Linked DNA regions of Homo sapiens. The protein of the gene in region 3 interacts with the protein of the main gene of each other region in a biochemical or structural test. Each region holds a gene or a part of one and is shown on either strand. Other genes may lie near its edges.

Region 1 (3,658 bases), on a different chromosome or scaffold from region 3:
TAATTTCTCTTCCAGGAGATAATTTTTCAAGTACAGGATTTGCATAGAAGTATAGAATATTAAATATCTATCTAATTAGACTTCTCTGGTTTCTACATTAGATGTGAAGAAAATGGAGACTATTGTAGTAAAGGAAGAATAGCAAAATAGTGGAGGAACCAGGATTAGAATCCAGAGCCATTCAGATTTTATCTTGTTAACAGGTGCCAAAGTATCTTTCCTTCCTTGGAAAGAGGGAAAACAGATGGAGGACATTGTACTTGGAAAGAAAACAATATTGTGGAATAGCCAGACGTGGTGGCTCACACCTGTAATCCCAGCACTTTGGGAGGCCAAACCCGGCAGATCACCTGAGGTCAGGAGTTTGAAACCAGCCTGCCCAACATGGCAAAACCCTGTCTCTACTAAAAATACAAAAAGTAGCCAGGCATGGTGGCATGCGCCTGTAATCCCAGCTACTTGGGAGGCTGAGGCATGACAATGGCTTGAACCTGGGAGACAGAGGTTGCAGTGAGCAGAGATCAAGCCACTGCACTCCACCCTGCATGACAGAGCGAGACTCCGTCTCGAAAAAAAAAAAAAAGAAAGCAATATTGTGCAATGGACATTTTTGGTATAAAGTTTTTAGTGATTAGGTATCTTTTAAAGGTAAGTCATTTTAGATAAGATAATGGATTTTTAAATAAATACATTTATTGCTTTTTTCCCTTTAGATTAGAAACAAAGTATTTCTTCATACTCCTAAGAGTTTCAGAGTTTCTTTGTCTCACATTCTAATTTGAGTTAGCCATTTTTGGCTTTGGCTATATATTTCCTTAGAATTATCAATATCCAATTTAATTCCTACCTCCAAACATTAGTGAAAGAAAAGACTAAAATGAGATCTACCTCATTTTATATATTTTCAGATTTAATGGACTAAGACATTGCAGTGTTACAGTGCATCACAATCCAGCATATATAAATGATATCTTCCAATGGGCTTTTTGTAGGTCATGGTTTAAGTGACCTAATATGTGATCTATCATGGAGAATTTTCTGTATGTACTTGAGAAGAATGTATATTCTTCTGCTGTTTAACTGAACATTCTGTATATGTCTGTTAGGTCCATTTGGTCTACACTGGTGTTGAAGTCCACTCTTTCTTTGTTGATTTTCTGTCTGGTTATTCTAACCATTACTAAAAGTGGAGTATTGCAGTTTCCTACTATTATTGTGTTGCTATTTCTCATTTTAGTTCTGTCAATATTTGTTTTATATATATATATGTGCTCTGATATTGAGTGTGTATATATTTATAATTGTTATAGCTTCCTGGTGGGTTGACCCTTTCATCATTATACTTTCTTCTTTGTCTCTTGTGACAGTTTTCTACTTATAGTCTATTTTGTCAGATATGAAATAGTCCACTCTGCTTTCTTTTAGTTACCATATGCATGGAGTATCTTTTTTCATTTCTTTACTTTCAGCTTGTGTGTGTCCTTAAATGTTAAGTAAGTCATTTGTAGAAATCATATAGTTATATATTGTTTTTTTTTCTTTCTGCTACCCTAAGTCTTTTGATTGGAGAGTTTAATCCATTTACATGTAAAGTAATTATTGATAGGGAAGAATTTACTATTGCCGTTTAGCTTATTGTTTCTAGTTGTCTTGTAATTAGTTCTTTGGTGCTTTTCCCCCCTGCCTTGTCTTCCTTTGTGTTTTGTTGGTTGTGTTTTTCTTTTTCTTCTTCTTCTTCTTTTTTTTTCCGATATGCTTTGATTCCTTTCTCTTTTGTGTAAACTGCTATAGGTATTTCCATTGTGGTTACCATGAGGCTTACATAAAATATTTTATAATTGGCCAGGCGCAGTGGCTCACACCTGTAATCCCAGCACTTTGGGAGGCCGAGGCAGGCAGATCACGAGGTCAGGAGATCGAGACCATCCTGGCTAACACGGTGAAACCCTGTCTCTACTAAAAATACAAAAAATTAGCCGGGCGTGGTGGCGAGCGCCTGTAGTCCCAGCTACTTGGGAGGATGAGGCAGGAGAATCACTTGAACCCAGGAGGCAGAGATTGTAGTGAGCCGAGATCTGTGCCACTGCACCTGAGTCTGGGTGACAGAGAGAGACTCCGTCTCAAAAAAAAAATTATAATTATAAGTCTGTTTTGAGGTAATAACAACTTAACTTCAATCACATACAAAAACTCTACACTTTTAATTCTCTCTCACCACACTATGTTATTTGATGTCACAATTTACATCTATTTATATTGTGTATCCATAAACATATTTTAAATTATAGTTATTTTAATACTTTTGTCTTTCAACTTTTATGCTAGAATCAAATGGAATTCAACCACCACCATTTTAGTAATATAGTAGTCAGTATTTGTATATACACTTATCTTTATCAATGAGTTTCATATTTTCTTATGCTATTTTGTTGCATTTAACAATAAAGATGTATAGAGTATTTCCTTATAATTAAAAAGAAATCTTTTTCTTCCATTATGGTCTTTCTATATGTTGCTCTCTCTACCAGGAATGTTCTTTTTTGGGCTAGTTTTTTGAGTTTTAGGTCTCAGTTTAAATGTCATTCCTTCAATGGCCTTTCAGTCTAAGGTAGTTTCAACTTTGTTCTTTCATAGCGCCCTTTCTTTTCCTTAATGATATTTATCACAATTTAAATGATATATTTGTGAATTTACTCATTTTATGTCTGTCATTCTCATTAGACCGAAGGCTCCATGACAACAATTTATTTTGTTCACTACCATACACCAGTGGCTAATACAATGCTTGGCCCATATTTGAAAATGAATGATTTTCCAAAAACACATTTTTTATTCTAGGCAAGAGCCTATAGAGGTCTTATGTTGTCTAAAAGAATATATGGACTTCTTGGGCTAACCTAAGGCCTTCCTTTCACTTTGTCTCCATGCCTATCATTTATTCCTGTTCAGCTAGCCGGGCAGTCAAGCCAGTCATCTCTTTAATCCTATGTATGTGTCTCTGCCTTGTTGTTCCTTCTCACCCCTTCCCTTGATATTAATTTCTGACCAAAGCATCCATGAAGGACAAACCTCACACTCATATCTTCTAAGAATCCTTCCCTGATTTCAGACAATACTACTCTCATAGCTCCCTTGCTCTATGTTCCCAAAGCACTTATATATAATCTGGCCTACAAGAACTGTGAATTTGAGTAAATAATGCCTTGTCATTGTCAGCATTTTTATAAGCTGGTTAACCATTTGGAGAATATGACTACAATTGGATATGGGGAGTGGGAAATTCATAGAGCTGATTAATTATTTAGTGAATTGGTTATTATGTGAATTTACCTACAGCCAAGAAGGAAGATTGGGAACAATCATAAAGGGCCTAGAAGATATGATAAAGAGTTTAGATTTTATTGAGTATATTAAGAAGCCATTGGAAGATTTTGACAGAACAGTAGCATGATCTGATTTATGCCTTTTTAAAAAAATCCCTGGCTGGCCTGTGAAGATGTATTGTGGTGGGACAAGATTGGAAATAGAAGAAAACAGGCTTTTGGTGAGAACTGATGGGATATATGAAGCAAGAGGGAAAGAATCAAGGATGACTCTTGGGCTTTTGGCTTGAATGGTGTTGTCATTTGTTGAACTGAGGAAGAATTGGAAGGAGCCA
Region 2 (4,228 bases), on a different chromosome or scaffold from region 3:
GTAAGTAATGATTAGCATAATTATTATAAATAAGTTTAAAGAAGAATACAAATGTTTTCCATAAATTTTGAAAGCTATGCCTTTTAAAACTTTCTAACATATAATTTATTTGAAAAAGAAAGTTGCCTTGCATAGTTGCTTTCAATCTCATCTCCTCGAAATGCTTTATTAATCACAAATATAAAAGAATAGTAGGATGTTTGATGAAATCTGCATATAAAGGAGGTAGACCATTAGGCTCTATGTCCCAATTAGAAAATTTTATAACCTAATTATTGATGTGTCTTAATTTTGACTCAACTTATTTCTTATACCTACAGGAGCTACTGCATATTTAATAACTGACCCCTAACACAGAATGATAATTGAAAAAAATAGAATGCTTCATTGCTTATAAACTGTGAACACTTGAAATAAAACTTTGATTCATTCTCTCTCTCTCTCCTCTCTGTCTCCCTCAGGTCGAGTTTTAGCTCAGGCAAGTGGCAATGGTGTTATCCATTTGCTAGATCTTAAATCTGGGGAGATTCACAAATTGATGGGCCACGAAAACGAGGCACACACGGTTGTGTTTTCTCACGACGGGGAGATTCTCTTTTCTGGAGGCTCTGACGGCACAGTTCGAACGTGGTCTTGACCGTCAGCACATCCCGCTGCAGAGGGCATTCCCTTTAAGGCTTGAAAATGCCTCCTGTAGTCCCAAACCAGCAAAGAACTGGTTAAATGTGCCAGCAGGTAACATTTACAGTCTGCTTTAAAACATGCTTTGGACATATATTTTAGTGCTCATACTGTTACTAATAAAAAAATAACTTTATGCTCACCCATTTGTGTCAGGGTCTTTTTTCTCTCTCATTTTGATAAGAATTTAGAGACACGGCATCTTTGCTAGGGGTTTTGAAAGAAACAGCTTTACAATGACGCCTAATGACAGACTAGATGAATTACAGGAGATTGATTTTTAATGTTAGAGAACAAACTGCAGGAAAACCTGGCTACTTTAAAAAAAAAAAAAAAAAATCAGATCCAAGCTGCAGGAAGACCTGAAGTTTAATCATGCAGCACCAGGGAAGTCTTTCTGCCACCAAAGGGTCAAATAGAATCGACAAGCATACGTTTTCACAGATTGTTTGACAATGATTATGCTTTATCTATTAATAATAATTGGGGACTGCAGATGGCTTAAATCTAAATGCAAGCCTCTTCTGGAACTTTCATCTCTGCAGCCCATCCAAGAACGCGTTAGGTATACAATTTTATACAAAAAAAATTAATTGCAATTTCAATGCAAATAAATATCTCGCACGTAGAATGTCTTTACCCCTCCTAATGCGCGCATCCGCTGTATAAAGTGCGACTGCTTGGAGAGCACTCTAGCCTCGTCTAAAGCAGCTCTGGGATTTCGACAGAGCTGGGCTCAGAAGCCAGTTGTTGGCGCTGTCCGTGGTGCTGAGGAATTCCCGGCTGCCGGCAGAATGAGCTCCAAATCAGCAATCTGCAAACTGCTCTTACTGATGCAGAAACCCAGCTAAAGTTGCTCCTTTCCTTCACATCCACAGTTAGTATTTTCCGGTGTGTAAGAGGGGATTCAAGCAACACACTGTGGACGATGGTGATGGTATTGCCAGCGGAGTGGGCTTTAAGCTACAGCATGCTGTTGCTGTTTGTGATCCTCAGAGCCTAGCCAAATCACCTCTACTGCCGTAGCAAACACTGTGTAAGTGAACTCATGTGTGGAGGAGGCGTAATCAGCCGGGAAATTTCATAGAAGGATCTAAGAAAATGCTAAAAATAAGTTCAACATGATTCTGCTACTGGGGTCTGGATTTCTACAGGACCAGCTTTGCTTCTTGCTTTGAATTCTGAAGACAGGTCCAAAGCAAATTTCTTATATGTGTCTGCTGTGTTTCTTTCTGGAAGGGCGGGAGACTGCTTCTTTACTGTGTTTTGAAATGGGAGGTAGAGAGAATGGATTGCCTTTAATTCATGCCTAAAAAATGTATTCTTTGGGTAATTAAAGAGGAACTGCTTTCTTAAAACATACCTGACCTTTTAGTTCATTTTGGGCTGTGACCCCTACCACCACCATTAACCTCCAGAGTGATTAGGTAAGTGTATCTTATGACATGAATTATGTTTGTTTTCTCAAAGAAATAGATGCAGTCATTTTAAATCATCTGTAGCAATATGGGGAGGGGGGGAAAATTAAGCTGGGAAGTGATCCTCAGTTTAGCAGTGTTTGCTTTCTTTTTAAAAATCTTCAGATAAACATTACATTTGATTTATCCCATGTTTCTTCTCTTAAATAGTATCTTAAATTGTACTAGGGCAGCTCAATTATGAAGGCTTTTTTTTAAAAAAAAAATAGCCTAAGAACTTTGTTATATTGAAAATAAAATCTTGTTTTTTACCATGCAGATTTTAAGATATATTTCATATAATAAAAACATATTTAATGTTTATATAAAGTAGATATTACATTCCTATTTTTACCTCTAAGTTTACATTTACCATAACCTAACACATTAATGCCTACCTGTGGCTTACAAAGAGATCATTTTCTGCCTATGTCCCTTTGAAGCAGAATCATATGTGTATTTTATATGGCTTATCTTGCATGCATTGACAGATATTGCTGGAATATTATAAGGAAGCACAGTAGCTTTCTTTTCCTCCAAGATAAACTTTCTAAATATGTGATGTATAAATGCTTGCTTTAATTAGTAAATTATATTTATGCTTTTTCAGAAGCTTCTGTTATGTTTGTTATCTCTGTAGTAATTTGAGAGAAAAAAATGCTTTGTCAAAGGGAGCTTCCAGATTCTCAAGTAGAATTATAGGTTTGCATTTTCTTGTTCTGTCATGACTTATTATTTTTGACATATTTTATAAGAAATCATCGGCTTTATTACCTACCCAAAGGGAATTCTAATATCAGAGGATATCAGAGTAATTCTGATATCAGCTTTCTCCAGAAAGAGGGCATACTACCTTCCATTTTACTATTACTAGAACTTGTATATCTACCTTAAAATGCAAATATAATAGTTTATGAAGTTTCCTAATGTCATCTTTATCTTGTTATCGTCTGTATATGTTAGACTGAAAAGAGATGGTTTATCATTGCTCTTAATATAATCTGAAAATAAACCAATGTATAACATTTATAACTGACCTGAAAATGTCCTGTATACCATCTTAGTGTTATTGGCATGAAGCCAATAGCATTTAAATAAAAAAATGAGCTATTTGACAATACTTTTTCTTATTTATTACTCCCTAAAGTCACAGTCTCCCCAGAGCCTCTGTGTGATTTAGTTATTCTAAATATTTAAATAAGAGCCCACTCCCAACACTTCACATCAAGCACCAATACTAAGTGGAGTTTACAAGAGTCAGTGTCACAAAATTAATAAGGCATATTTTCTATGAATGGTTAACACTTAATTACAGTTTTAAGCAACTTCCATAAAGAATTTTATGCTGGCATCTTTGTGCAGATTTTGTACATGTAAATATTTTTGACATTTCAAGAGTTATGTTTTCAAGATCTCATAAATTGTATTTATATTATATTGCAAATTTTAATTTAAATAATATTACATATATACTAGATTCAAGTTACTGTGAAGTAAATTTATAGATAGATCTTTCCTGCCCACTAGGAGCTTCCTTCCTATGTAAAATAATGTGGACAATAATACAAATAAATTTGTTTTTAACAAACTCTTTTAAGCACATGGAATTCTCTTGTATTATTTATTATTTCAAATTTTCTTTCTCTTAATCACTATGGAATAGTTATGTTGTTTTTGTTATCAACTTTATTTCAAAAATCCAGACTCACATTCACTTAAACAGGTAACTGATGTTGACGCCATTGTTGTTCTTTAATTATGGGCATAAATAAGTAGGAAATCCTTTATAGTAGCTCCTTCCTAAATATAATTTATATTCAACTGTTGGTTTATTCCCTTTCCTTTAGAATTAGATTTTTTTCTCACTAATCTCTTGAGTTGACACAGATAATTATAACATATGTTCCATCACTGACTAGTCCAGTTTAAAGAATAATAGAAAATGTGAGTTCAAATATTCTTGAGCTATTTGTAAGTTACTCCTTGGATCACATTTTGGGGCTCAGTAAAACCATTTCTTTGCAATTTAGATAAAGCCAGACCTATGAAATTCAGAAGGAAAATTCAAGCTGAAGGTTCCTATATAAAAT
Region 3 (3,658 bases):
AAAAAATTTCCCCTAAGTAGAGATCTAAGTTTCTGATAAATGTTTTTAATTTTTTTCTTATTCCAAGATGTTTCTAATTAACACCTGGCAGTTTTTATTTTATGATCTGGCTACCTAATGGCATCAGGTACATTGCAATAAGATAAAAGGTTCAAACAAAACATAAACAGAATTGAACATTTCTTAAACTTAGTACTTGTCACATTTAAATGCATCATATTAACAGAAGTATTGAATTATAATAGAAAAAGTAATGTAAGAAAGGTATTCTTTAAATAAGAATGTTTATTCATTGTCTTTTTCTATTCCTAGGAATCTGTCCTATTGGGAAAGTCACTGCGACATGATTAATGGTACAGGTAAGAATATTTGTTTTGTGGTCATCACAGTTAATCCACCTCCCTTTCCCACAAATCCACCGTTGTACTGACAGTGTTCTGAAAGTTGAGGGTGTGTGTTTACTTGCCTTTATATCCCCACAACAAAATTCAGAGTCACTATTTGTATATAGGCTAAAGGTCTGTTCAATGTGATGGGATTTGTAAAGATTAATCATAAAAAATTAGCCCTTACTGCATGATTCAGAGAAATGTTTGCTTTGTAAAAACTTTACTGCCATCCTGGCAACAGAAGTAAATGGTAAAAAACAAACAACAACACAAAACACTTTAGTTACATTTCAAATATTTTATAAATAGTATACAGATAAGTTAGAATTGAAAGAATTAAAAAAAGCTAATTACAAAATAGAAAACATATCTAAGCAAGGCTTATAGCTGAGATAGAATAAAGTTGCAAGACAGAACCATCCATTTTTGGATAAGGTGGTCAGAATGAGAGAGAAAACAATAACAAAGTCAGATGTCTTCTTAACTGTGAAAAATATATGTAAAAAATGAGCATTCATAAACTTAGATTTAAGGTATGGTTAGATCAGGCTTATTCTCCTTCAGGAAAAGCAAAGTACAGATATGCCTATTAGTTTAAGAATTAAGATTTTTAAAAAGCAATGGGAGGCTGGTCACAGTGGCTCATGTCTATAATCCCAGCACTTTGGGAGACCAAGGCAGGTAGACTACTTGTGCCCCGGAGGTTGAGACCAGCCTGGGCAACATAGCAAAATCCCATCTCTACAAAAAAAATACAAATATTAGCTGGGTGTGCTGGCACACGCTTTTAGTTCCGGCTACTTGGGAGGCTGAGGCAGGAGGATCACTTGATTCCAGGAGGTGGAGGCTGCAGTGAGCTATAATTGTGCCTCTGCACTCTAGCCTGGGCAATAGTGTGAGACCCTGTCTCAAAAAAAAAAAAAAAAAAAAAAGTGGTGGGAATCGAATACCATGAAGTAATTAATATCCAGAGGCAAGCTTTCAACTACTAGGAAACAAAAGCATGAAGTTTAGAAAATTAGGGAATATCCCATAGGAAAATGATATAACAAAGATAAAGACACTTAAGTAAAAATGAAGTACAGAGAATGTTTACTTTGCCAAAGGTATGATTATTGACTTCGTATGCGTACTTGATTCTATCATTGCCTTGTAGGAAATGATAAACAAAAAAAGCAAACAAAAAAAACAGCAAAAACACTGTTGGATTTGCAGGGGTTTTCTTTTGTTTTTTTTTTTTTTTTTTTTTGAGACATAGTCTGGCTCTGTTGCCAGGCTGGAGTGCAGTGGTGCGATCTCGGCTCACTGCAACCTCTGCCTCCTGGGGTTCAAGTGATTCTCCTACCTCAATCTCATGAGTAGTTGGGACTACAGGCATGTGCCACCACACCCAGCTAATTTTTGTATTTTTAGTAGAGACGGTTTCACCATGTTGGCCAGGATGGTCTTGATCTCTTGACCTTGTGATCCGCCCCCCTCGGCCTCCCAAAGTGCTGGGATTACAGGCTTGAGCCACCACACCTGGCCAAGGCTTTGCAGGGTTTTGAGCCATAGGAGTGGGCAAATAAGCTATTTTCTAAGTAAAGCATTTCTGGAAATAAATTTTCAAGTCCTCAATACTACCAATGCTAGTAGTTGTATAAGCGGAATACTTAGTCCTTAGATGCAGAGATAAATATACTGTGTTAATCCTAGTAAAGGATTCTTTAAGGAGAAAAATCTTTAAAAAGAAGATTCATTGACAATAATAGAAATGCATGAGCATCAGGCATGATGTTAAAAATATCTATGGGGAAAATAGGGCTGATACAAACTAGGAAAAGAGGGAATTTGGACAGAGCAGGGGATGATCCCTGTGAGAGAGATTCTTGCTTATGGCACTAGCGAAAAGAAAGTAATAAAACAGTAAGGTTCTAATGTGTTTTCATCGTAATTTAGAAGTGCATCCTCTTTACCTTCTTCAGTAAGTTTGAAAAGACTTAAAATGAAAGTATTGGTATACATTTAGAATGTTTCTTTTGGGAGGACAGAAAAAAAGCTCTGCAAATATCAACTATGTTGCAGTCATTGTCCATGGTAGTTGCTGGGTATAATTAGGACATAATCTTCAATGATATTTTAGATAATGATCTTAAAAGCTTTTCAATGCATTTTTCTTTAATTATTAAGGAAATGGAAAAGCAGTTGTTGTCAATGTCCATATGGGGGCTTATATTTTACTTGTCACAAGAGTGTAAACTAATGAAAACAAGGTCACAAGGTTGACACACTTGCCAGAGAAAGAACCTACAATGCATAATCAAAGATGAGACTTACCATTTAAAACTCATTCAATGACGGCTCGTATTAGTGATATTCATGTGAGAAGTACATGGAGGAGTTAACTATTTCTTCATATATCCAATGTTTGCCATGGATCATAGCTGTAGCAAAAAGTAAATTCAATAAATGACTTTTTTATACACTTTCAAAGCATTTGAAGTTCTGTTTAGTGAGAGAACTTTAGTAAATATTTTTAGAAGTAGTAATCAGCCATTAGGACAAATGAGAAAAAAAATCACTACAAATAAATGTGGACATGGCAGGAGATCCAAATGAACTTCACTGGAAGAAAAGTGCCACTCTACTGGTGGGGTAGGGCATTTCAAAAAACAAACACAATGTTAGCCTTAACATTTCATGTTTAAGTTTCTTTTATTTTGTACCATTAAATATGTATAGTATGTAGATTTGTTGTTGACAATAGCAGCCGCCAGCCATATGTAACTGTTAAGGACTCAAAATCTGGCTAGTATGATTTGAAATGTGCTGTAAATATAAAATGCACAGTAGATTTTGAGACTTTAAGAATTTAAAATATTTTATAATGGTTACATGTTAAAATATTTTGGATATTAATAAGTTAAATATAGTTTTGTTTTGTTTGAGACAAAGTTTTCCACTTGTCGCCCAGGCTGGAGTGCAATGGCATGATCTTGGCTCACTGCAGTATCCGCCTCCTGGGTGCAAGCAATTATCCTGCCTCAGGATAGCTGGGATTACGAGCGCCTATCTCAGGATAGCTGAGGCAGGCCTATCCTGCCTCAGGATAGCTGCCTCCCAAGTAGCTGGGATTACAAGCGCCTACCACCACACCCAGCTAATTTTGTGTATTTTTAGTAGAGATGGGGTTTCACCATGTAGGCCAGGCTGGTCTCAAACCCCTGACCTCAGGTGATCCACCCGCCTTGGCCTTCCAAAGTGCTGGGCTTGCAGGCATGAGCCAGCAT

Evidence for each region.
Region 1: the proteins of CD36 (region 3) and SCRG1 form a complex in vitro, tested with the Homo sapiens proteins (one large-scale study listed by BioGRID).
Region 2: the proteins of CD36 (region 3) and VWC2L form a complex in vitro, tested with the Homo sapiens proteins (one large-scale study listed by BioGRID).

What each region holds. Positions count from the first base shown.
Region 1 is NC_000004.12:173,392,523-173,396,180, forward strand, and holds part of SCRG1 (scrapie-responsive protein 1 precursor), read right to left. Parts: intron 649-3,658; exon of another isoform or gene 535-648; intron 1-534.
Region 2 is NC_000002.12:214,409,679-214,413,906, forward strand, and holds the start of VWC2L (von Willebrand factor C domain-containing protein 2-like isoform 1 precursor), read left to right. Parts: upstream 1-1,375; 5' UTR 1,376-2,108; intron 2,109-4,228. Other genes in the region: SPAG16 (sperm-associated antigen 16 protein), read left to right, coding at 462-637.
Region 3 is NC_000007.14:80,666,131-80,669,788, forward strand, and holds part of CD36 (platelet glycoprotein 4), read left to right. Parts: intron 1-312; coding exon 313-359; intron 360-3,658.